7 linked regions of the Homo sapiens genome follow. The protein of the gene in region 2 purifies or fractionates together with the protein of the main gene of each other region. This does not show direct contact. Each region holds a gene or a part of one and is shown on either strand. Other genes may lie near its edges.

What was found.
Region 1: the proteins of ESRRG (region 2) and ISCA1 purify together in Homo sapiens (affinity purification with mass spectrometry; one large-scale study listed by BioGRID and IntAct). This does not show direct contact.
Region 3: the proteins of ESRRG (region 2) and KGD4 purify together in Homo sapiens (co-immunoprecipitation; one large-scale study listed by IntAct). This does not show direct contact.
Region 4: the proteins of ESRRG (region 2) and TRPM3 purify together in Homo sapiens (co-immunoprecipitation; one large-scale study listed by IntAct). This does not show direct contact.
Region 5: the proteins of ESRRG (region 2) and PPARGC1B purify together in Homo sapiens (co-immunoprecipitation; 2 studies listed by BioGRID and IntAct, with this or other methods). This does not show direct contact.
Region 6: the proteins of ESRRG (region 2) and ARK2N purify together in Homo sapiens (co-immunoprecipitation; one large-scale study listed by IntAct). This does not show direct contact.
Region 7: the proteins of ESRRG (region 2) and ACOT4 purify together in Homo sapiens (affinity purification with mass spectrometry; one large-scale study listed by BioGRID and IntAct). This does not show direct contact.

Annotation. Positions count from the first base shown.
Region 1 is NC_000009.12:86,276,039-86,279,538, forward strand, and holds part of ISCA1 (iron-sulfur cluster assembly 1 homolog, mitochondrial precursor), read right to left. Parts: exon of another isoform or gene 2,179-3,500; intron 1-2,178. UniProt on the Homo sapiens protein: Involved in the maturation of mitochondrial 4Fe-4S proteins functioning late in the iron-sulfur cluster assembly pathway. Probably involved in the binding of an intermediate of Fe/S cluster assembly.
Region 2 is NC_000001.11:216,671,430-216,674,929, reverse strand, and holds part of ESRRG (estrogen-related receptor gamma), read left to right. Parts: intron 1-3,500. UniProt on the Homo sapiens protein: Orphan receptor that acts as a transcription activator in the absence of bound ligand. Binds specifically to an estrogen response element and activates reporter genes controlled by estrogen response elements.
Region 3 is NC_000005.10:69,224,260-69,227,759, forward strand, and holds part of KGD4 (alpha-ketoglutarate dehydrogenase component 4), read left to right. Parts: intron 1-2,078; coding exon 2,079-2,142; intron 2,143-3,500. UniProt on the Homo sapiens protein: Molecular adapter that is necessary to form a stable 2-oxoglutarate dehydrogenase enzyme complex (OGDHC). Enables the specific recruitment of E3 subunit to E2 subunit in the 2-oxoglutarate dehydrogenase complex (OGDHC).
Region 4 is NC_000009.12:71,118,822-71,122,852, forward strand, and holds the start of TRPM3 (transient receptor potential cation channel subfamily M member 3), read right to left. Parts: upstream 2,801-4,031; 5' UTR 2,534-2,800; coding exon 2,357-2,533; intron 1-2,356. UniProt on the Homo sapiens protein: Constitutively active, non-selective divalent cation-conducting channel that is permeable to Ca(2+), Mn(2+), and Mg(2+), with a high permeability for Ca(2+).
Region 5 is NC_000005.10:149,736,810-149,740,309, reverse strand, and holds part of PPARGC1B (peroxisome proliferator-activated receptor gamma coactivator 1-beta), read right to left. Parts: intron 1-3,500. UniProt on the Homo sapiens protein: Plays a role of stimulator of transcription factors and nuclear receptors activities. Activates transcriptional activity of estrogen receptor alpha, nuclear respiratory factor 1 (NRF1) and glucocorticoid receptor in the presence of glucocorticoids.
Region 6 is NC_000018.10:46,177,034-46,180,533, forward strand, and holds part of ARK2N (protein ARK2N), read left to right. Parts: intron 1-3,500. UniProt on the Homo sapiens protein: AMPK substrate important for exercise capacity and skeletal muscle function.
Region 7 is NC_000014.9:73,590,453-73,594,672, reverse strand, and holds the start of ACOT4 (peroxisomal succinyl-coenzyme A thioesterase), read right to left. Parts: upstream 2,801-4,220; 5' UTR 2,714-2,800; coding exon 2,257-2,713; intron 972-2,256; coding exon 769-971; intron 1-768.

The sequences.
Region 1 (3,500 bases), on a different chromosome or scaffold from region 2:
CACTTTATTTCTATTATTACATTGTAATATATAATGAAATAATTATATAACTCATCAAAATATACAATCAGTGGGAGCCCTGAGCTTGTTTTTCTGCAACTAGATGGCCCCATCTAGGGGTGATGAGAGACAGTGACAGATCATCAGGCATCATTCTCATAAGGAGTGCACAAACTAGCCCCTCACACCTGCAGTTCAGACTAGGGTTTGTGCTCCTATGAGAATCTAATGCCCCTGATGATCTGACAGGAGGTGGAGCTCGCTTAGGTGGTAATGCTTGGCTTGCCTGCTGCTCTCACCTCCTGCTGTGAGGCCCTGTTCCTAACAGGCCATGGACCAGTACCAGTCTGTAGCGCAGGGACTGGGGACCCCTGTTCTAAGTGATTGTCAATAAAAGCTAGCTTTCTTATCAACCACATGTAAATTTTCACCATATTTTCCTATGTGCATGCTGAAGAAATTAATCACTTACTGTCAAATAAAAATAGCTTTCTGTAAGTTTATTTTAAAAAGGCATAGCCTGGCTGGGCCTGGTGCCTCATGCCTATATTCCCAACACTTTGGGAGGCCGAGGTGGAAGTATCACTTGAGGTCAGCCAAGGTGGAAGGATCACTTGAAGTCAGGAGTTTGAGACCAGCCTGGCCAACATGGTGAAACCCCGTCTCTATTAAAAATACAAACATTAGCTGAGGATGATGGCATGCGCCTGTAATCCCAGCTACTCCGGAGGCTGACGCATGAGAATCGCTTGAACCCAGGAGGCGGAGGCTGCAGTAAGCCGAGATCATGCCACTGCACTCCAGCCTGGGAAACAGAGTGAGACTCTGTCTCAAAAAAAAAAAAAAAAAAAAAAAAAAGGCATAGCCATGGAAAATATCCGCGGGAACTAAAATCTGAAACGTGGTCTTGGTTTAATCTGAGTGGATCAAAGGCACAGATGGGCACACCACTGCATGATCTAAACAAAACAAATGTGTCTGTCACACTACTCCGTTTACCAGCCCCAAATATATAATTTTTTTTATCTCCAAGTGGTTTTCTAAATTATCTAATTTGGTTTTACAAAGTCATCTATTTTCTTATTTTCTCAACTTTTAGCAGGAAACACTTAAATACAGTAAATGAAAGCAATTCGTGGGGATTGGTCTACTTATCACCAAGTTGCTGATGTTCACATCTCATACTGAAGGACTCTTTAAGGGAAAAGTAACATTCAACAGGAACCTGTGTGCCTGGGAAGCTGCTGTTACAGGAACTAAAATATGTCTTAATTTTCCTGTGCCAGGCCAAAACCAAACCTACTCCACTGGGAGGGTGTTACTAATGATGGACAACCCAGGTCAGTACTCAACCAAGGGAAAAGGTTCTTAGAACTTTCAAAGTGACTGATCTGATTTTCAGAACAAGGGAGAGTGGTTAAAAGGGAAGAGTTGGGACTTAAAAAAAATCGAGCTATAAGAGGTACTTTTTGTGTCTCAGTACCAGGGAGAGGCTAAGAATCCTACCCTGCTTTAAGTCTACATACTCTGGCAACTTTGTGCTTAGGTAAAATTCATGTGAGAAACAGCATAAAATCTTCAACTACACAGCATGCTGCAGGGCCTAGCAGCCTGCCAGTACCAGTGCACTTCCCAGAACAACTAAGAAACATGTAATTCTCAAGAAATTTATGTACTATTAATGAATATAGCTTACCTGAGATTTGGCCCATGTTTTAAAATTTAAGAGCTTCCTGAAGCCCACTAAAATATGATGGTTTTTACTCACATGCAAATCACAGGAATATGACTTTTAAAGTGAGAGGTTATCTTTGAGGTAAGGTATTTTGGCCTAATTGAAAAATAAATATATTTCCAAGATGTTTCCGCTGTTAAAATTAAGGGAAAAGGCATTGTAGATGAATGTTTTATCACTACTTCATAGCAACACGCTTTCTAATCCTTGTAGGAGAAACTTTTCATTCTCAATCCTGTATTTCTTTAAGTAACTCCCCAGGCAATTTTCATTTTTTGCTGTTTAAGAAAATTAAATTAAATTCAAAGCTAAAGTTAACTCTGTGATTATGCATACTAAACATGTGCCAACAACTACAACTTAATTTCTCTACAAACATGGCATTTTAATGTCAACATATCAATTTTCTGGGGGAACAAAAGATGGTAAATAAATAGAGCCAGTGAACAAGTACAGTGTATTTTATTAAAATCATTCTTTAACAGCCATGGCTGGCATTAGAGTGTCAAAATAAGAAAAGACAAAAGCATTCTCTTTTGTCTTTTCTTATTTGTGTATATGTGTATATACACATCCAAAATACATATAATATACAAATATATATTTGTAGGCCAGGTGTGGTGGCTCATGCCTGTAATGCCAGCACTTTGGGAGGCCAAGGTGGGAGGACGGCTTGAGGCCAGGAGTTTGAGACCAGCCTGTGCAACAGAGCAAGACCCTGTCTCTACAATAAATTAAAAAAAAAAAATTAGCAGTCAAGGTGACATGTGCCTGTAGTCCCAGTTACTTGGGAGGCTGAGGTGAAAGGATTGCTTGAGCCCAGGAGTTTGAAGCTGCAGTAAGCCATGATCATGCCACTGCATATGAGCCTGGGTGACAGAGGAAGATCCTGTCTCTAAAAAGAAAAAGGTTTGTAATCATGGCATATATACATAATTTTGCAGCCTCCATTGAAACAATTTAACAAATTATTTTTTCATTTGATACATGGTAATAAACATATATTCACCATTTACTGAGCACCTTCTAAGTGTTTAATGGTTTAAACGTAACATCTTTTTATTCCTGCCATTGTGATTTAGGTATTAAAGATTAAATAATTTGCACAGCATAAGTCAAAGAATGAAGATTTATAACGCTGAAACTTAAAAAAAACCATAATTTACAATGACTACATCCTTCACCAACAGGATCTACTCTCACGTACTTAACCGTTCTTTCACTGTTAGACTGCTAGGCTACTTCCAGTGCTTCTTGTGTAGTATTTCCTAAACTGCCTTCGTATAGAAATCTTAGTGCTTGGTCACTGTTCAAAAGGACTTCTGGTTCTAGTCCAATGAACTAACACACAGTTCCTTACTGAGCATTAAGCATTTCCTAGCTTCTCAACTGGACTCCAATAGAAAGTTAAGCCCTAAGGCACCTTCCGTACACAATGAATTCATCAAGAATGATAGTGGCTGTGCACCATCATTCTCTCATAGAACTTGGTTGAGTTTTAATGCACAGCTGTGATCCACCCCAGTCCTACAAATTAGAGTTGCTCTGACTTGTACAATGATGGAAATAAATCTGTCTGCAAGCAGGGCACTATTTACTCTTCAGATTCTTTAATCACATCTGGCTCCTGCAAGTTCAATTCCACTTGTCAATTTCTAGATATGTAGGGAAATAGGGAAGATGTAGATAATCTGATAATGACAGCATTGAACTGTGTTATATTATCAGTTACTTTTCCTAGCCTTTTGTTGACATCTGGTAGACT
Region 2 (3,500 bases):
AATCAAAATGTTTACTTAGTCAGGTGCAGTGGCTCATGCCTGTAATCCCACCACTTTGGGAGGCTGAGGCTGGAGGATCCCTTAAGGCCAAAAGTTCAAGAGATTAATCTGGGCAACAAAGTGAGAACCCTGTCTCTATAAAAAATTTACAAATTAGTTGAGCATGGTGGCATGCACCTGTAGTCGTGGCTACTGGAAAGGTTGAGGCAGAAGGATTGCTTGAGCCCAGGAATTGGAGGTTGCAGTGAGCCATGATTGCACTCCAGCCTGGGGTGACAGAGCTAGACACAGTCTCAAAAAAAAAAAAAAAAAAAGTTTACCCAAAGCACAATTTCTCAAGACATCATACTCTTACATAGTAGATGAGATACTTAATCCTAATCTTTTCATAGCCTTTCATAGTTTTAAATGAAGAGCACAAAACCAAGTTAGTATGCAGTACATATGAATGTCCTAAACATCTTCATAGCTGTATCTTTATAATTTCTGGCTCATCGTTGCTATATTTATTGATATTTTCTTACAAAAATCTTTCATTTACTGGATTTTTATTTTCTTTATCCTCATCTATAAATTGAAGGCATTAACCTCAGAATACTTAAGTTTAAAATGAAATATAAAATCACATGGAAAGCGAGAAAGCTAAAAACAATGGTCTGTGCACAAGGCTTTTCATCACTTCTGAGCATTTGAGAAATCTCTTCAGTCTATTTGGTAACACTACAAAACTTGAGAATGAAAGCACACCTCAAATCTTTGGGTGTTTACCAGCCATTGTTCCACAGTGTTATAATCCTTATGGTTACAAAGTATATACAATTCAAACTGTTATTAATTTGATTTTGTTAACTCAGTTTACACAGCTCTGAATTTTAACTACACAAAGATAAGCAAATATTTTGGGATAAATTCATGAGCACTGAGTGCGCTGATATAAGCAAGAGGTTCTCAGTGTGAAAACCACTCCCATTTATTCAACGAATATTTACTGAGAACCTGTGATTCAGACAGCAGGCTGGTTGGAGTGTCCTCTTATCCACATTTTATTAAAGCTTTGTTCCCAAAGGTTGTGGATTGAGATGAATTCCTCTAACAAATGTCTCCTGCCTTGAGGAAGTAACAATTTTTAGGGTTGAGGGGATTAAACCCTCGAGTCTTCGGTATGTTTTGTAAAGATAGAATAACAGTGTGAAAAAATTTCCTAATACATGTCTCAAAACATTTTATAGGTTAGACATTAATAGCTCTGCAATAGTTATTTACTGAGCAATAATTAGAATAGAGCAATTGGAATTCTATGCATGATTATTCTTTAGGATGCTGAAATGCTACCAAAAGCTTAACAGAGCAAAGCACAGGGTGATTCTTGGCATTGATGTATGTGCTCAGTTTTACTCCGTATTGGAGAGAGCAAGTTTCAAGGATTTTGAGCAGGAGACAGAGATGTCACTGTCCAGATTAGCACTCTGGACTTGCCCACCTGGCTGTGCTTGTAGCTGGCAGCTGCGCAGCACTTGGTGAGGCTACCCTGCTAGCTACATCATCAGACATCACACTGTGGTGCTCACTTAGCCCCAAAAAGGCAGTGAGGCAAATAAAGGGATTAAATTGTGAAAGTATAATGTAATAATTAGAGCAGTAATTGTAAGGAAGATTGGAACGGCCCCTCCTTTCTGTGGCCAAATACGGTAGTGATAGCAGTTGAACTCCAAAGATGTTGAGTGTGGCCCAGACTCTTATTCCAATGCTGAAGCTGCCTTAGAGTTCATTCTCATGCCTTCAGACAGCATTGCAGCCAAACCACCCTTAACAGATCGTAGTCTCTCCCTCCCCTCCATTAAAGCTCTCCAAGGAAAAGGAAGAGATTATGTAACTCCCCTTGACAACAAGCCTTGCTAGACTAGAGCCCCAATGGACAGGCCGTTACATAAATGTGACTCCTGCCTCACCAGGGCCTGGTTCTACTCTCATTGACTTAAGGGACGTGTGCATCCATAGGCATTTTCATGTACACCATCATCTGTTAAGATCTTTCCTTTTTAATATATCTTCTTATTATTTTTGAGACAGGGTCTCACTGTGTTGCCCAGGCTGTTGTACAGTGATGTGATCTTGGCTCACTGCAGCCTCCACCTCCTGGGCTCAAGTGATCCCTTCCCCTCAGCCTCCCAAGTAGCTGGAAAACAGGCATGCACTACCATGCCTACCTAATTTTTCACTCTTTTGTAGAGACGGGATCTCCCTATGTTGCCCAGGCTGGTCTCAAACTCCTAGCCTCAAATGATCCTCCTGCCTCAGCCTCCCAAAGTGCTGGGATTACAGGCATGAGCCATCTTACTTCTTATTTTAACAATTTATTTTTAGGATTGGTTATCGAGTGTGTAATAAATATATACGTTTAAAAAGTTGGGAAAAATACTTCTTAAACTTGGCACCAAAAGAACATATATCCAGACCATATCTTGAGAAAAGTAATACAAATTGTTCTTTTCAGAGCTGAATGTGCTATTTCTGTTGTGAAAGACAATTAATCATGGATTTCAATGAAAGGTAAATAGAAAGGAATATTTTACTTGTTGACTATTTTCAAGTTATCATTGAAAAACTATTGAATTATGTCAGCATTTAGTTGGGTAGAAGCCAAAGTTTTGCTGTTTTGTTTTTGTTTTTGGCTGACCAAAATACTTTTTACAAAACTTTGACAGCTCTACCCTGTCATCCAATAGGGTTACAGTGGCAGCAGTGATTTCACGTCATTTTCTAGGCATAGTAATTTTGGGGATGTGATATTGTTATTCTTCTGATTTTTTTTCCAATTCCAATTTTGGCCTTAATTCATAAATGATTGGAGTCTGCCTTCTTTCCCTCCTTCCTTCCTTCCTTCTTTCTTTCCTTCCTTCCTTCTTTTCTTTTCTTTTTTTTTGGGAACTTCTCATTAAGAGTTTCCCCTAGACTCTTGTTAAGGAGGCAAGAGAAGGAAAACATCCTTATACCCAAGTATAAGTAATACCCAAGTATTACATATTTCATTATTTAATAGACAAAACACTAGCCTCCTGAAGTTTTTATGTCCATATAATAAAGAAAATAATTTTATAAATAGTTTTCTTTGTGTAGATAATATAGCCATTCTAACTCCTCATTATAGTGCTAGAAATAAAGTATTCTTCTTTCCCCCACATTTAAAAGGTGGGAAATTGTATATTTAAAAATATGAGATTTTAAAAAGATGTTCATTATAGCATCGGTTTTGGATTTATATAAAGCCAGGCCCAAGTCTCAGCCACTTACCAGCTGTGAGACCTTAACCCCTCTTTTCCTCTGTTTCCCAAGTGATGAGGGTTACATGAGAGAATGAATATCGAAGTACTTGACCCATAGTAAATGTACACTAAATTATTAACTTTGGTTGATATTGGGAATATGACTGGGATACCCAGAGGCTGGATGGTTCGTGTAATCTAGCACAGAGTTATCCTTGATGCTAAACTAGAAGGACA
Region 3 (3,500 bases), on a different chromosome or scaffold from region 2:
GCAGGCCTGTAATCCTGGCTACTCAGGAGGCTGAGGCAGGAGAATTGCTTGAACCTGGGAGGCGGAGGTTGCAGTGAACAGAGATTACGCCACTACATTCCAGCCTGGGTGACAGAGGAGACTCCATCTCAAAAAAAAAAAAAGTCTTTTATTTGTTTTACGTGGGTCTTGGGATTATAGTGTTTTCTTCTTTGTGCTCTTCTGTGTTCTTCCAAATGTTTTACACAGAATTTGTGTTACTTTTGTAGTCAAAAAAAGTATTCTTTAATTTTCTAATTTTCAAAATGATTGTTTTTTCTTCCCTGTTAGGTATTAATATAGTAGGGAAATAACACTCAAAACAAGTCAGGAGGCCAGGTGCAGTGGTTCATGCCTGAAATCCTAGAACTTTGGGAGGCTAAGGCAAGAAGATTGCTTGTACCTAGGAGCAGGAGGCGGAGGTTGCGGTAAGGCCACATCATGCCAGTGCACTCCATCCTGGGCAACAAGCCAGACGCTGTCTCAACAAAAAATTTAAAAAGTCAGTAAATTTCTGCCGGGTGCGGTGGCTCACACCTGTAATCCCAGCACTTTAGGAGGCCAAGGTGGGCGGATCATGAGGTCAGGAGATTGAGACCACCTTGGCTAACACGGTGAAACCCCGTCTCTACTAAAAGTGAAAAAAACTAGCCGGGCGTGGTGGCACGTGCCTATAGTCCCAGCTACTCGGGAGGCTGGGGCAGGAGAATCGCTTGAACACAGGAGGTGGAGGTTCCAGTGAGCTGAGATCGTGCCGCTGCACTCCAGCCTGGGCGACAGAGTGAGACTCCGTCTGAAAAAAGAAAAAAAAAAAAAAGGCAGTAAATTTCCAGTGTTTTTTCTTTGAGATGGGGTCTCACTCTGTTGCCCAGGCTGGAGTGCAGTGGCAAGATCTGAGCTCACTGCAACCTCTGCCTCCTTGGTTCAAGTGATCCTCCCACCTCAGCCTCCCAAGTAGCTGGAACTACAGGCACATAGCACCACATTTTTTTTTTTTTTTTTTTTGAGACGGAGTCTCGCTCTGTGGTCAGACTGAAGTATGGTGGCACTATCTCTGCTCACTGCAACCTCTGCCTCCTGCGTTCAAGCGATTCTCCTGCCTCAGCCTCCTGAGTAGCTGGGATTACAGGTGTGCACTACCACCATGCCCTGCTAATTTTTGTATTTTTAGTAGATACGAGGTTTCACCCTGTTGGTCAGGCTGCTCTCGAACTCCTGACCTCGTGATCCACCTGCCTCAGCCTTCCAAAGTGCTGGGATTACAGGTGTGAGCCACCATGCTCAGCCACCTTTTTTTTTTTTTTTTTTTTTAAGATGGAGTCTCACTCTGTAGCCCAGGCTAGAGTGCAGTGGCACGATCTCAGCTCACTGCAACCTCTGCCTCCGGAGTCCCGGTTGGTTCAAGCAGTTCTCCTGCCTCAGCCTCCCAAGTAGCTAGGATTACAGGCACGCATCACCATGCCCAACTAATTTTTGTATTTTTAGTAGAGATGGGGTTTCACCATGTTGGCCAGGCTGGTCTTGAACTCCTGACCTCGTGATCCGTCCGCCTCGGCCTCCCAAAGTGTTGGGATTATAGGCGTGAGCCATCACACTGGGCCTTGTTTTTCTTTTTGTTTTTGTTTTAATTTTTGGTAGAGACGGGGTTTCACCATGTTGCCCAGGCTGGTCTCAAACTCCTGCACTCACGCAATCTGCCTGTCTGGGCCTCCCAAAATGTTGGGATTACAGGCATAAGCCACTGCACCCAGCCAGCTTTCATTCTTACCAATCTATAAGTCATGCAACATAAACTCTACATCATCTCCTCCATTGGGTTGCTTTGAAGTGAAGTACACCTTCGATAGTACAATGAAGTCTTGTGATATATAAAGTACAAAGTTGTGTTTACCGGGTAGACAAGTTAATAATTCATAGACCAGCTTTCCTGGTTGGGGAAGAGTATAATTTAAAGTTGCTGTAAAATAGTAATTTTAACAAACGTATCTACTTATGAGGTTTAGTAGATCATTTCTTTTAGTTAATGAGATTGTTTTTCATGCATATTACTTTTCATTTAGGTAGTCAAACCACACACTCCATTAATAAGGTTTCCTGACAGAAGAGACAATCCTAAACCCAATGGTGAGTTGTATTTTATTTAAATTTCTTTTAAAATTGTGTACATGAATATTTATAAATGAGTATTTTATTATAGGCAATATTTCTCATTTTAAAATCAGTTAAGACTATTGTAGCTTAGATCAAAATAGTGCCTTATGTAGCATGCAAGTAGAAATTAACTTATGGCTGGGAGCGGTGGCTCACGCCTGTCATCCCAGCACTTTGGGAGGCCGAGGCACGCGGATCACCTGAGGTCAGGAGTTCAAGACCAGCCTGGCCAACATGGTGAAACCCTGTCTCTACTAAAAAATACAAAAAATTAGCCAGGCGTGGTGGCGGGCTCCTATAGTCCCAGCTACTCGGGAGGCTGAGGCATAGAATTGCTTGAACCCACGAGGCGGAGGTTGCAGTGAGCTAAGATCATGCCACTGCACTCCAGCCTGGGTGACAGGGCAAGACTTTGTCTCAAAAAAAAAAAAAATTATTACCTCTATTTTATTTTATTTTTTGAGACAGGGTCTTGCTCTGTCGCCCAGGCTGGAGTGCAGTGGTGCTATCTTGGCACACTGCAGTCTCCCCCTCCCGGGTTAAAGCAATTCTCGTGCTTCAGCATCCTTAGTAGCTGGGATTACAGGCATACACTAGCACGCCTGGCTAATTTTTGTATTTTTAGTAGAGACAGGGTTTCACCATGTTGCCTAGGCTGGTCTCGACTCCTGATCTCAGGTGATCTGCCTGCCTCCGCCTCCCAAAGTGCTGGGATTACAGGCATGAGCCACTCACCTGGCCTTTATTACCCCTATTTTAAAAGGTAGTGACTCAACAGAAGATGTCTCTGAATTTCTAGTGAGTTTATATGGGCAAAATTTTGTCCTACCTTTATTCTCTCCTATCCTTTAGAAGATTCTCCCATGCTTACATTTGCAGAGACTGGGAAAATAATAACCATTCCTGTTTCTCTCCTCACCAACCATCTTTTCTTTCATTCATTCATTTATCTATTCATCTAGTCAGTAAATATTTTTTGGATTGCCTTAATCCTTAGCATTTATTCAAAATTAATGGGAGAAGATTCTGAAAGGGTTCTGTTTTTCTCTGATTCCCGCCCTTTTTTAAAAAAACCAGATCCTCTGTGCCTCTCTTGATCTTTAATTCAGGCAATTTTAACACATTTTATAGGTATATTTTTAACTTATTGTAACTATTGAAGAATTAAGATGTTTAAACAAGTGTAAAGATATTGAGAAAACTACCCTCATTTACATTTACTGACTTTCTTATTCCTTATTGTAAGATATTACCTGTAAACTCCACCATGTGTTGGCCTATGAGGGGTTATGTGACATAAGCTTAAGTAGTGTAGGTTCCCCTAAAGGGTT
Region 4 (4,031 bases), on a different chromosome or scaffold from region 2:
GGGAGGGAGGAGAAAGAAAGGAAAGGACATAAGAAATACTGTTATTAAATATTTCATTTCTAGATTAAGCCAGGAAGAGCATTTACCAAAACATGCAAATTATTATTCATGAACTTACATTTTACTCAAAAGATAAAATGGCAAGAATACATAGGAACTAGCAAAGCAAACACAGGAATCCATAGGAGAAACATACAACAATCCATAGGAAAAAAATACATAGCATTCACAGCCAGAGAGTGGACAATACAATTGCTCATATACCAAAGCAGCTTTGCTTTCTTTCTAAGTATTGCTGAAAGAACTTGGTATGACTTTATTTTTTTAAGAGTTTGAAATGTGCTCAATATCTGAAGTCTCAGAAGATAGCTATGATCTTTCAAAAATACAGATGTCATTTGGGAAAAAAGTTCTCCAGTAAGGTTCCATCCTGTCTTTTAGATATTGAAAAAATGGGAAGGACACACAGTAATGCACTTTATTCAATAAATTATTACAAAGCATCACTTTAATAAAGGATGGTAAGATTGAGCTGTATGCCAATGAAAGTATGGCTGTAGCATTAACAATGTCTCCTGAAAGTATGGACAGCACTTTCAGTTAAAAAAGATGACAGAACTCACTCTCCTAAAAAGACAGAGCTTCTTCTAAAAGAAGTACCTCAGGTAGGTACTTCTCTGCTGGTTTTGTGACTAGTAAATGAATAACATTCTCCATTTAAAAAAAAACTAGCATATTAATTAATCATATATGGAGAGTGATAGTCACCTATCTGTCAAGAAGAGTTAAAAAGCATTATTTTGGGTTAAAGCTGATACATGACTTTAACTGAAAAAATGTTTCTCATTGCACTTCGAATTACTGGAGTTGAATTCTTTCAGGGAGACTTAGATATGCCCATTCTTTGCCCCTGACTCTTGATTCACTAGTGATTCTGGAGAAAATGTACACCAATTTGTTAATTCTCTGGCCTCATTCTTTTTCTTGCCCTATCACACATGTTGTTACAACACAGCAAAAACACACATATCCAAGGAAAAGTCTCTTCTACTACCCATACCCAAACCTGCCTTTCCTCCTAAATAGTCCCTAGGGAAGCAAGCCATCGCCATGACAACCATATGATGGGAGTTTGAACAGCACTTGGGGCAGCCTTTGTTGAAAGTTAATACCAGTTGGTGTTTAACAAGAAAAGGAAAACTCAGGCAAGGGGTAATACTCTGTTGTGAGGCACCACTTAGCTGTATGGAACTAACTGTCCCCATCAAATCTTACCTAACCAGAACACATCCTCAGAACAAAATTCTCCAAGTGTAACGTATTCAGGGCTAATTCATTAATTCTCCATTGTAGCCCACTGGACTCAATGCTCTGTGGTCACTAAATCAAAAGAGCATACATACTCAGGAAAAGAGAATTAAGAACTTTGCCTTTTTTAACTTCGAATGGATATAGAACATCAGAGATATTTATTTTTCCCTATTAAGTATTACCACCTTCTATTTACTGGGCAAAAATGCTTGTTTCCTGCACCTTTAAATCTAATTTGTGTTTTCCCCCCTACAAGAAAGATCATGAAGGTGGATTAGTACAGAGTTGTATGGACTTTTTCAGTATCTTTAATGCATTTGCTTCTGGAAAGAGAAGCGCTGCAGACACACGGTGGCAATTCCTGCTCAGGTGTAGTGCCATTCTTTTGTGTGACTCACAGCTAGAGAGAGAGCTGACATTCAATATATGTTTAACAATACTTTCCCACTACTGATTCCACTCAGGAGACTCACATTTTTATGCCTTTTCTAAAAACAAGGACACAAAAAAAGTCACTGTCTGAGGAGGCTCATTCTTTGTTCATCTTCACCTGACTGGCCACCTAACTACACAAAGCTTTTAAACTAATGAGGAGAATCCTTTGTTCTCTCTGGTTCCATTTAAAGGGAAAGTGGGTCGAAGGGCTTCCCCAGGGAGAGAGAAAGAAAAGCCCAGGAGCCAAACACAAGGGAGTAAGAGATTTCACTCCCACTACTATTCCCACCCTCCCAAAGAAGTTAATTAATTCTGTTTTAGGAATGGTTAAAAGGGGTGGGGGAGCACCAGGTAGCCCATTCTCTGAGACCAAAATCTCCTTCTCGAGTGTGGTTCGCACCAGCCTCTTGTCTCTGACACCACGGGGTGTGGGTGGGGGGCGTGGGGGGAGGGCAGGAGTACTGAGAACCTCTCTCCAGCCACGGACCACAGAGCCAGTACTGCATGCATTTAGGCTCCCCCAAAGGTGCGTCCCAGCCCAAGTCCCCAAGTTGGGTATTTAAATCTAAAAAGCACAATTAGCGCCATTCAAAGCTGCAAGTTACAGTACCTTCAGAAGTCTGACAGATGGAAGAAAGGCTGCGTGGCACAGCTTCCGGATGGTCCAGTTTAGGGGTCGAGGAGCATCAGCCTGATTCATGACCCCTTCCAAATTCCACCAGGAAAACAAGAAACTGAAAACCTGAGCAATGCCTAGAAAATAAACGGTCCCCCACGGCTCTGGCATCCCATGGTCATCTCCACACCTGCAAATTCCATTAGGGCAGAGGCTTCCTGGAACTTGGAAGACTAGTCAAGTAGCCTTGCCTGAGCCCCTGAACCTTCTTAAAACAGCCACCTCCCCTCTCTCTGCAGCCGTGCTCATGCATACCAAATGTGGCTGAATGGAGGCACACTGCCTGCTGCTTCGGGGAGGGGATGCACGATTTTGAAGAAGAGGGACAGCCTGCACAAAACAGCCTGTGGTCGGAGTCAAAGCAGCCTGCTCCAGAATGCGCGCTCCCTCTCCCGCTCTCCTCCCAGTAAACGCAGGTCAGGCGTTGGGGGGGAACCGGGGCCATTGCTTTGCTAGCTTGGTTTGGGGGGGAGCCAGGAGGATCGCAAAAGGGAACAAAAATGAAGCCAGAACGGGAAACTTGCACTTTCTTGCACAAAGCATCTTTGAGGGACTGAGAACTGGTACGGGGGGAGGGGTGAGGACACAGGGAGAGAAGGGGTGCCTCCGAATGATGAGATAAATGCTTCCCTTTTGATTTATGTGACATAATAAAGTGAGGCTATCATCAAATACATCTATAGTAAAAGAGATCTGTGTCGTGTTCTGAGGTTTTTATTAACCGTGATTGACAGTCTTCATCCTGATAATCGGTTGCATAGATGACAGACACTGAGACAGAAGCAAACTCAAACACACTGGGTTGTTCCTTTCATACAAAGCAGTTTAAACTCATGGGCATTTGGCTCACCTTTTAGAGATGGCAGTTTTTAAATGGGGGTTATCTCCTGGAAAGCCACTTGATACCGCTTCTCTGCAACACAAGTTTAACCCATAAAGTGCCACATGGGATGCTGTCTATAAAGAATGGATTTTCCTCAAGTGGGGTGTCCACCCCCATCATTTTCTAAGGAGGCTGTATGAAATAGTTGCTGAGTTGGAATGTATAGTCTTTAGGACTCCTGTGGTGAGAGAGAGAATTAAAGGACAGTTTTTCAATTTGAAGGTAGAAATTGGATAATTTCACATAGTAAGTTGGGACGGTGAGATGAGAAGGGAGTTCCTGACACAACCCCCCTTCGGCTCCCATGTACCCCCAGGCATCGGACCTCAGTGGGAGCAGTTGACCTGACAACTCCTATGGGGAGAATCCCCACATCCTTGGAGCATCGCCATCTTATTTATTTTTTCCTCTGTGACCATGCTGATTTTCCATTTCTAATTAACTTGAAGAGATTGGTAAATCCCAGCTCCATGACTATTATGCAGTCAGAGCTGAACTGGGAGTGGTGCAAGCAGATGTGATACACTGCTGTAATTCAGAACCGGGACAACACAGGCCCACCCCAGCATGAAATCAATACCTGACACACTGCGCTACAACACCATTTCACTCACAATGGTCTTGTGTCAAAAATTTAAGAAAGATATTGCAGAAAACTAGTCCACGGGTGGAAGGCAGACCATTGACCTACCTCGTATAGTAAAATTTATGTCTCTGATTATCTAC
Region 5 (3,500 bases), on a different chromosome or scaffold from region 2:
ATTCTTCACTAAAAGCCTTCAAAGCATATGCTACTATCGTCCCCATTTCCTAGATAGAAAAAGAAGGCCAAAAGAAATTCTCTGCCAAGCTCCCAGGGCTTTGCCCAAGCAGAACCCCATCCTAGAATTCACAGCCCTCTCAGTCACTGAAGCAAACAATTAGGGCAAATGTTTGTTTTCTTACCTAAAACACCAAACAGTCATCACAGGCCTTTGGGGACAGTTAATCAATGGCTTTATCCCACCATTTGTGAAAGTCTCTCAGGTCTCGTCTCTGGTCTCCTACTCCAGATCTGGGTAGCAATTCGGTCTCTATCCTGAGGAAAGAGCAGGGTGGGAGCCCAAGGGTCCAGATGCCACCAAGAGCCTGTCAACCCTGTGCCCAGGCCAGCTGGGTGACCTCAGGCCAGGCCCCTCCTCTCTGAGCTCTGTGAACCCAGCTGCTGACCCCTTGGCTCCCTCTCCCTCACTGGGTAGTCCTGAGCATCTCATGAGAGAACTCGTGGTCAGCTGCAAGGAGGACCTTTGGGATTTAGGAATGACAAGAGTAGGAAGAAAATGCAGTCTGTCCAGGGGTGGTGGTAGACCTTGCCCCAGGGTCCCACGGCCATCCAAAGCCCAGCCACTCAGGGCAATGGTGTCTCTCAGAGGACTACCCACCCTGGCCCTCCCCAAGAGCTAAGGCCCACCGCACCTCGCAAGACCTGACACTGGAAATGAACTTGCCAGGGAGTCAGGGGCCTGGGCTTCCTCCAGCCAAGCAGCTGGACCTCAGCTTCCTCTCTTCTGGAAATGGCAAGGTGTACCTGTATCTCCAAGGGCCCCCTGCCCCAAGCCTGGAAGGAGAGGGAGCTGCTCACAGTCAAGGTTCAAATCCCAGGTAAGCCGCTCACTAGCTTCAAGACCCTGAGCAACTGACCTAACCTCCCTGCACCTCAGTTTCATCACCTACAAAATGGGGAAAGCCAGTCTCACAGTTATTGGGAGAAATCCATGCAATAGCACTCAGAAGTCTCTTCACAGATACACAACGAAATAGTCACAGATGAAATGACGTCTTGTACATGGAGATGGAATAAGAGTGACTGCAAGTCTTTAACAGTGGACGCTGGGTGATGGAGGGATGGGGATTCACCATACTGTTCTCTCTACTGTCTACTTCTGTATGAGTTGACATTTTCCATAGTCAAATGTTTAAAATACAAAGTTCTTTCAGAGAACCTGACATTGAAACCTATAAAACGCTCTTCTAGGCAACCACACTGCTAGTCCAGGATAAAAATAATTTCTTGTCCTCCCAGAGCTTTCAATCCAGTTGTAGGAATAAAAGCACACTCAGATACCATGGGATAGTAAGTGGCACAAGCCACGTGGGTGGTGGAAGCAGAAGAAGTTAGCTTCAAAGGCTTTCTAGAGGCTGGACGCGGTGGTTCATGCCTGCAATCCCAGCATTTTGGGAGGCCGAGGCGAGCGGATCACGAGGTCAGGAGTTCAAGACCAGCCTGGCCAATATGGTGAAACCCCATCTCTACTAAAAATATAAAAATTAGCCAGGTGTGGTAGCACATGCCTGTAGTCTCAGCTACTTGGGAGGCTGAGGCAGAAGAATCGCTTGAACCCGGGAGGTTGCAGTGAGCCGAGATTGCACCACTGCACTCCAACCTGGGCGACAGAGTGAGACGCCATCTCAAAAAAAAAAAAATGCTTTCCAGAGAGGGCAGGCTTTCAAGAGGGGGCTTAAAGTTCAGGTAGGCTATGAATACATTAAAATGGCAGGGATGGTGGCGGGGAGAGGACATTCCAGTTCATTCCACCAGACTTGTATTCCATCCCTTCTCAGGAACACTCAGACTGAAGATATAAAACAAGAAGCAGTGTCTGCCCTGAAGAGGCTCATAGTCTAGCATATTCATTCACTCAATGAGGATTGATTAAATGTCTGTTATGTTCCAGGCACGGATCTATTCACTGTGGTGAAAACAAAAGGTGGGTGAAATGAACGAAAATCCTTGCCTTTGTGGAGCTTAACGTCCAGGAGTGATTTCCTAATCATTCAATGAGGACTGATTAAATGTCTGTTATATTCCAGGCACTGATCTATTCATTATGGTGAAAAACAAGGTGGATGAAATAAACGAAAATTCTTGCCTTTGTGGAGCTTAACGTCCAGGAGTGATGTCCTAACACTTAATATGATCTATAGATGAAGAGATATATCTATTATTTGGTGCTTATTCTGTGCCAGGCATGTGTTACATGCTTTAAATCCATGTTGTCATTCGATTTTCACTGACTCTTCACAACAATCTTTTTTTTGAGACAGAGTCTCACTCTGTCACCCAAGCTGGAGTGTAGTAGTGTGATCCTGGCTCACTGCAACCTTCACCTCCCCAGTTCAAGTGATTCTCCTGCCTCAGCCTCCCAAGTAGCTGGGAATACAGGCATGCGCCACCATGCCCGGCTAATTTTTGTATTTTTAGTAGAGACGCGGTTTCATCATGTTGGCCAGGCTGGTCTCGAACTCCTGACCTCAGGTGATCCACCCACCTCAGCCTCCCAAAGCGCTGGGATTACAGGCGTAAGCCACTGTGCCCGGCCTCTTCACAACAATCTTAATCATCATATCTTCTCACTTCAGGAAACAGAAGCTCAGAAAGGTTATGTGACCCGCCAAAGGCCTCGAAGCTGGCAAATCGCAGAACCAAGACTCAAACCCAGTAAGGGGATTCCAAGGTCAGTGCTCTGCTGGCCCTGCGTACTGCCACACAGAAGATGGAACAGCTGGCTTGGAGGTGAGGGAGAGGGCATCGCCAAAACAGTGGCTGGTGAGCAGGGGCTCGCAGGATGAATCATGGAAATGGAGAAGGAAGACACAGAAAAGGGCAGCCTGAGTCTAAGCCTCCAGGAGGAAAATTCAGGGTTTTCCTGGGGAGGTACAGGATCCCAAAGTAAAAGCAGACAGCTCAAGACAAAGTCAAGGGCCTAACTCTCCAACTTAAAAGTACCCGAAGGCCTTCGGAAATCAGGTTTAAGTTTAGGCTTTAATTTTAAAATACCGGAGAGCTAAGCTATCAAGCCATGAAAGTCATGGAGGAACCTTAAATTCCTATCAGCAAGTGAAAAAAAAGCCAATCTGAAAACACTACATACTGCGTGATTCCAACTATATGACATTCTGGAAAAGGCAAAACTGTACAAACGGTAAAAAGATCAGTGGTTGTCAGGAGTTGGGGGACAGAAGAAATGAAAAGGTAGAGCAGATTTCCAGGGCAGTGAGACTATTCTGTGTGATGTTACCATGGTAGATACCTGTCATTACAGATTTGTCCAAACCCACGGAGTGAACCCTAATGTAAACTACAGACTCTGGGGTGGCAATGATGTGTCAATGTAGGTTCATCAATTATAACAAATCTACAACTCTGGTGGGGAATATTAATAATGGGGGAGGCTATGCATGTTGGGGGCAAGGGTATATGGCAAATCTCTGTACCTTCCTT
Region 6 (3,500 bases), on a different chromosome or scaffold from region 2:
AGCAACTGCACCCGGCCTAAATGTTGGATTTTTAATGTGTTCCTTTAAGGAATAGTGATTTCATTATCTTCTGTTATTTTAGGAAAGAGTTTGGGACCAAATAAAGTTTCTTGGGTTACTGTAATTCTCTAGGCAAAATGAAGTACATATGATACTATGAATAAAAAGTTGTGAGACTATAAAAGGGGAGAGCTATATAGAAGGGGGATAGAAAATAGAGTGGATAAAATATTTGTAAGGGGCTGGGCACAGTGGCTCACACCTCTAATCCCAGCATTTTGGGAGGCTGAGACGGGAGGATCAGTTGAACTCAGGAGTTTGAGATCAGCCTGGGCAACATAGTGAGAGCCCCTTTCTTTTTCTTCTTTTGTTCGTTTGTTCTTTCTTTTTTTCTTTACTTTTTTTTTTTTTTTTTTTTGATGGAGTCTTACTCTGTTGCCCAGGCTGGAGTACAGTGGCGCGGTCTTGGCTCACTGCAAACTCTGCCTTCCGGGTTCAAATGATTCTTCCATGTCAGCCTCCCAAGTAGCTAAGACAGGCGCCTGCCACCACGCCTGACTAATTTTTTATTTTTAGTAGAGATGTGGTTTCACCATGTTGGCCAGGTTGGTCTCGAATTCCTGACCTCAAGTGATCACCTGCCTCGGCCTCCCAAAGTGCTGGGATTACAGGTGTGAGCCACCGTGCCCGGCCTTGAGAGCCCATTTCTATAAAAAATTTAAAAACTTAGCTGGGTGGGGTGGTATGCATCTTTAGTCCCTGCTGCTTGTGGGGCTGAGGTGGAAGGATCGCTCAGGAGGTTGAGGCTACAGTGAGCTGTGACTGTGCCGCTGCACTCCAGCCTGGGCAACAAAGTGAGACCTTGTTTCAAAAAATAATAATTCATATGGAGAGTCTTTATTCTCACAACAACAATTTATTGAGTGTTTACTGTGTGCCAGCAGTGCTCTAGTTGCAGGAACTATAGTGGTGAATAAGACCAACAAGGCCACCTGGTGCTTAAGGAGCTTAGACATTTAAACCTGAGGTTCGAGTTGGATTTCCAGGTGAGCATGCCAGGCTAGGGCAGCCTAACCAAAGTCATGATTATCAGTGCACTTGAATGGTTAAGTGGGGCCAGTGCCTTGAGTTTTCAAAAGGAATGGATAGGGCAGATGGAGATAGGGCCAAGTTGCAAAGGTACCTTATTAGTCCGCTAATGGGTTGGGAATTTTCTTCTTTTTGGAGGAAAGAATTCCAGGTAGAATGTGAAGAATGAGATAGGCATTCCTTTTATTTTTATTTATTTATTTTTTTTGAGACAGAGTCTCACTGCGATGCCCAGGCTGGAGTGCAATGGCACAATCTCCGCTCACTGCAATCTCCACCTTCTGGGTTCAAGTGATTCTCCTGCCTCAGCCTCCCGAGTAGTTGGGATTGCAGGCATGTGCCGTCATGCCAGGCTAATTTTTGTATTTGGTAGAGACAGGGTTTCACCATGTTGGCCAGGCTGGTCTCGAACTCCTGACCTCGGGTGATGCACCACCTCGGCCTCCCAAAGTGTTGGGATTATAGGCGGGAGCCACCATGCCTGGCCCTGACATAACTTTTTAAAGATTTTTCTGGGGCTACGTGCAGTGGCTCATGCCTGTAATCCCAGCACGTTGGGAGGCTGAGGCCGGTGGATTGCTTGAGCCCAGGAGACCAGCCTGGGCAACATGGCAGAACCGTCTCTACAGAAAAATTAAAAGATTATCTGGGTGTGGTGGCACACGCCTGTAGTCCCAGCTACTCAGGAGGCTGAAATGGGAGGAGCAGTTGAGCCCAGGGGTTTGTGGCTGCAGTGAGTGGTGATCATGCCACTGCCTGAGACTCTTTCTCAAAAAAAAAAAACAACAAAAATATTTTTCTTTATTATCCTTAAGTTGAGTGAATACAAATTTTTTTTGAGATGGAGTTTTGCCCTTTCACCCAGGCTGAACTGCAGTGTCAGGATATCTGCTCACAGCAACCTCTGCCTCCTGGGTTCAAGTGATTCTCCTGCCTCAGCCTCCCGAGTAGCTGGGATTACAGGCGCGTGCCACCACACCCAGCTAATTTTTTATATTTTTGGTAGAGACGAAGTTTCACCCTGTTGGCCAGGCTGGTCTTGAACTCCTGACCTCAAGTGATCGCCCACCTTGGCCTCCCAAAGTGCTAGGATTACAGAGGTGAGCCACTGAGCCCAGCCCAGTGAATATAAATTTTATTGGTTTTATTTATTTTAGTTTGGTTTATTTATTTTGATTTCTTGGTCATCAGATTAAATAAATCTGATAGTTATTTTTCTTTAGTTGTCAATTTCCAGTCTTGGTTTTGAGTTTGACTGTTGTCATGATACTCTTCTGAATCCTTTTAGCCTTTACCTGTACCTCTTTTCCTTACTTTTTCAGAACTCTTATGATTCCACTTAAAGAAGCAGTGTTTTTTACTTCTGTGTGGGCAGCTTCTCTCAGCAGAAGTGGGATTGATGTTCAGTCAGTCAGTTTTCACACTCAGCCTACAGGGCCTTGTAAAAGTAAGGAGCAGGAGCAGGGTGAAACTAAAAAGTAATCTTGCTTTTTTAAAGTTATCTTTTTTTTTTTTTTTTTGAGACGGAGTTTCGCTCTTGTTGCCCAGGCTGGAGTGCAATGGCGCCATCTCCGCTCACCGCAACCTCCGCCTCCTGGGTTCAAGCGATTCTCCTGCCTCAGCCTCCCGAGTAGCTGGGATTACAGTCATGTGCTGCCACGCCTGCCTAATTTTGTATTTCTAGTAGAGAAGGGGTTTCTCCATGTTAGTCAGGCTGGTCTCAAACTCCCGACCTCAGGTAATCTGCCCGCCTTGGCCTCCCAAAGTGCTGGGATTACAGGTGTGAGCCACTGCGCCCGGCCTAAAGTTCTCTTCTATATTCCTGAACTGCTAGGAGAGGAAACTATGTGATCTATGTGTTATACAGATTTATCGGAACATATTTGTAGCAGCTGATAATAGTAAATGTGATTTTAAAATACTTTAAAGTAGCCAATATAACTGAGATTTGATAAGTTGTTTGATTAGTTGTTAGGAATTTTGGCTTTAATTTACAGTGTTTTAAGTTTTGTTTCTGTTCTCTTTCATGTCTGTTCAAAATAAGGGACCTCATTCCTCTTTGCTCAGACTCTGCCACTTAATAGGTAGATGGTGTAAATTCCTAAATTATTAACTTGACTTTAAATAATTTTAAAACCTACCTAAATGAGTATTTTCTAGTTAAGTGACAATTAATCTAAAGTGGAAATCTATCAGCAGGGACTTAATGCATATGTGGTATTTATACCTGGTTAAATTAAAAACCCATTTACTGAGCATTTACATGCCAGGTGGTAATGGGCACATAAAATAAGCAGTTTGGGGCAGGGCACGGTGGCTCACGCCTGTAATCCCAGCACTTTGGGAGGCCGAGGCGGGCGGATCACCTGAAGTTCGGAGTTTGAGACCAGCCTGACCAACTTGGAGAAACA
Region 7 (4,220 bases), on a different chromosome or scaffold from region 2:
TTATCCAATGCAAAAACATTTTTCTAAAATGCAAACAGAGATGCTGCTAGCTTTAATCTGGGAATCATCCACAAGAAAATCAACCTCAGCTGACAGGGGAGTTTCTTCCCATGTGCAGAATATCTGGCTGAACACATGGCAAACACATCTTAAAATCACTGAAAAACTTGGAAACTGGTTATAAGCATTTCAGAGAATTATCCACTAGAGAATGCTGAGCCGCTGAGCCGCTGAGCCACAGATCCCATCAAGTTCAGGGCCACATTCAGGTAGGTCTGACTGAAGTCTTCATGTGGCAATGCATCCAATAGTGTGGAACCAGGTTGTTTCAAGATGTGAATCATTCATCAGATCATTTGCCATATGTATTGGCAAATGATTACAAAGCAAGACTTCAGAGTAAGTAAGTTTGTTCTTGGCTTCTGAAAGGGGTGGACAAGTTCTGACCAAAATCTGAGAACATACTCTGACACCAGGAAATTAAAATTTAAAAACAAGCATGCAAAGACAGTAGATTAGAAATTCAATTTGCAATATACAGATAATATTTAATATTACTAAATAAAATCTCATGTGGATTTTACAATTAATTCTATATCACAAATTCATCTGACAGAAAAAGTGGAAATAGCACCTTAAGCCAAGGAAGTCTCCAGAAGACATCTTTGTGAAAGAGGAACAGAGCAGCATTTCTGCACGTGGTAAAGGTTACACTCTCTATGGAAATATTTCTAGAGAGACTGATTAAATAAAGGACATGAGGAGAACCTGGGGATGTTGAAGCATGTAGCATACGGCTTCTTCGAAGTACTCCAGGGATATGTTGTCCATGTTATTGGGGAGATCTTCAAAGTTATAATAAGCTAGAGCCAACGTGGCAAAGCCATGGCCAGCAAGGAGGCTGGCTCGATATTCCAAGAGGCCCCCTCCAATACCAAAGATGTCAATGATCCCTGGGAAGGGTCCAGGTCCTAGAGAACAAAATATTATAAATGTAAGCCATTATACAATTTAAAGAATTTGCTTTCCTGGCTGGACACTGTGGTTCATGCTTGTAATCTCAGCACTTTAGGAGGCCAAGGCAGGAGGATTGCTTGAGGCCAGGAGTTCAAGACCAGCCTGGACAATGTAGTGAGACCCCATCTCTACAATCTTTTTTTTTTTTTAATTAGTCAGTGTGGTGGTGTATGCCTGTAGTCCTAGCTACTTGGGAGGCAATGGAGGGAGGATCACTTGAGCCCCAGAGGTCAAGGCTGCAGTGAGGTGTGACCACACCACTGCACTCCAGCGTGGGCAACAGAGACAGACACTGTCTCAAAAAAAAAAAAAAAAAAAAGAAAGAAAGAAAAGAAAAAAGATTGAAACAAAACTTTATGTTCTGTTGCATCAGCCCTCTGGTTTTTAGTGTACTGATATTTCAGATGTCTATGTAGAAAGGGAGGAAAGAAAAAGAAATACCCAGAGATGGTTTTAGGTGAGAAAGGCAGTGGAGTCTGAAGTGTGACCTGTGATAAAGCAGCACATGAAGAAGTGGAGAAGAGACAGTGTGCCTAGAACACTAGAGAAGACGACATGGTAATAGCTTCATTCACTGTCATCATTCTGCCTTAGACAAGTCAGGCTGATGCCTGTAGAAATCTGTAGGGTAGTGATTAATAGCAAAGTGGATAATGTACCTGACGACCTGAACCTGTTTTTTCATCTGCAGAATAACAATACCAACTTCATTGGGATATTATAGAGACTAACTGATAGAATGCAAGTAAAAACCGTAGTACACAGCCTAACAAAAAATCCTTTTTTTTCTTTTTTCTTTTTTTGAGACGGAGTCTCGCTCTGTCACCCAGGCTGGAGTGCAGTGGTGCGATCTCGGCTCACTGCAACCTCCATCTCCCAGGTTCAAGCGATTCTCGTGCCTCAGCCTCCCGAGTGGCTGGGACTACAGGCGTGTGCCACCAGGCTGGACTAATTTTTGTATTTTCGGTAGAGTCAGCGTTTCACCATGCTGGCCAGTCTGGTCTCAAACTCCTGATCTCAAGTGATCCGCCCATCTCGGCCTCCCAAAGTGCTGGGATTACAGGCGTTAGTCACCACGCCCGGTACCAAACCCTCTATTTTGGTAGAGTGGCCACTGACATAGTCAATGTTAGCTTCTCTGATCTTGCTCCAAAACCAAACCAGTGCTAAATCAGCACTGGAAACAAACGGAGACTCAGGCCACTGACGCTCACACCACCCGCCAGCAGCCTGGCTCACCTGGCGGCAGGAAGAGCGTGGCGCGCACCCGGCCCGCTCGCACCGACTGGCGCCGCACCCCTGGCGGGAGGAAGTGGCGCTCGTGCTGCGCCTGGCACAGCAGCCGTCCAGGCTCGGGGTCGTGGCCGTCCAGCACCTCCAACTCCACGACAAAAGGAATCTGTACGTCCCGCTTCAGGAAGCGCCAAAAAGGCTTCTCGGGTTCCAGGGCCCAGAGCAGCCCCATGGGCTCGAGTCCCGCGAAGCTGCCGCCCAGCGCGGGTGCGCGCTCCAGGTCCAGCTCGCCGCGGGCGTCGGCGCAGTAGCGCGCGTGGGCCCGGAAGAGCGCGCCCTTCTCGTCGCGCAGGGACGCGCGCAGCGTAACCCGCTGCTCCGGGGCCAGGCCGCGCACGGCAATGCGCACCGGCTCGTTCCAGCAGCAGCGGCCTGGGGGCTCCAGGATCAGCGTTGCTGACATCTTGGAGCCGGAGCGGGGAATTCAAAGGTCGAGGCCCGAGACCCGTCCAAGATCGTGGCAAGCGCGCCGAATGTCCGGACGGCGTCCGGCGTCCCCTGGTGCCGGAAGCTGCCGGTGGCTGAGCAGTCCCAGAAAGCCCCTGGGACTTCAGACCGGTTAACCCGGCGCTCCGGACTCGTCTGAGGCAAAAGTAGCCAGGCTCCTCTTCAGGGTCGTCTCCTTGGGCCCCGGGGCGCGCAAGGTGTGGCGCCCAACCCACCCCGTAGAAAGCCTCTCTGCCTCACACCACCCTCGGTTGTTGGAATGAAAGTTGTTGGATGATCAATTTGTGGTGAAACCAAAAGCCAATGAGATCAAGCCAAATTCCAGCCTTTCATGGGCTCCATGGAAGGTTTTGTTTTTAACTTTTTTTTTTTTTGAAACAGAGTCTCCTCTGTCGCCCAGGCTGGAGTGCAGTGGCGCTTCGGCTCACTGCAATCTCCGCCTCCTGGGTTCAAGCGATTCTCCTGCCTCAGCCTCCCGAGTACCTGGGATTACAGGCGCGCGCCACCATGCCGCTAATTTTTGTATTTTTAGTAAAGAGGGAGTTACACCATGTTGGCCAGGCTGGTCTTGAACTCCTGACTTCAAGTGATCTTCCCGCCTTGGCCTCCCAAAGTGCTAGGGATTACAGGCGTGAGCCGCTGCGCCCGGCCTGCTTTTTTGTTGTATTTGAGACAGGGTCTCTCTCTGTCATCCAGGCTGCAAGGCGGTGGCTCGATCACAGGTCACTGCAGCCTCCACCTCCCAGGCTCAAGTGATCCTCCTGTCTCAGCCTTCGGAGTAGCTGTGACTACAGACAGCGCACCACCATGCCACGTTAATTTTTAAATGTTTATTTTTAGAGAGGAGGTGTCACCCTGTTTCCCAGGCTGGTCTCGAACTCCTGAGCACAAACTATCCTCCTGCCTCTGTAGTCCCAAAGTGCTAGTGATACGTGACAGCATGCTGGCTGCCCTCGCTCGCTGTCGGCGCCTCCTCGGCCTTGGCGCCCACTCTGGCCGCGCTTGAGGAGCCCTTCAGCCCGCCGCTGCACTGTGGGAGCCCCTTTCTGGGCTGGCCAAGGCCGGAGTCGGCTCCCTCAGCTTACTGGGAGGTGTGGAGGGAGAGGCGCGGGCGGGAACCGGGGCTGCCCGCGGGGCTTGCGGGCCAGCGCGAGTCCCGGGTGGGCGTGGGCTCGGCGGCCCCGCACTTGGAGCGGCCGGCCGGCCCGCAAGCCCCGGGCAGTGAGGGGCTTAGCACCTGGGGCAGCAGCTGCTGTGCTCGATTTCTCAGCGGGCCTTAGCTGCCTCCCCGCGGCGCAGGGCTCGGGACCTGCAGCCCGCCATGCCTGAGCCCCCGCCCCCGCCGTGAGCTTCTGCGCGGTCCGAGCCTCCTCAACGAGCTCCGCTCCCTGCTCCACTAACGCCCAGTCCCATCGACCGCCCAAGGGCTGAGAAGTGCGGGCGCACGGCGCGGGACTGGCAGG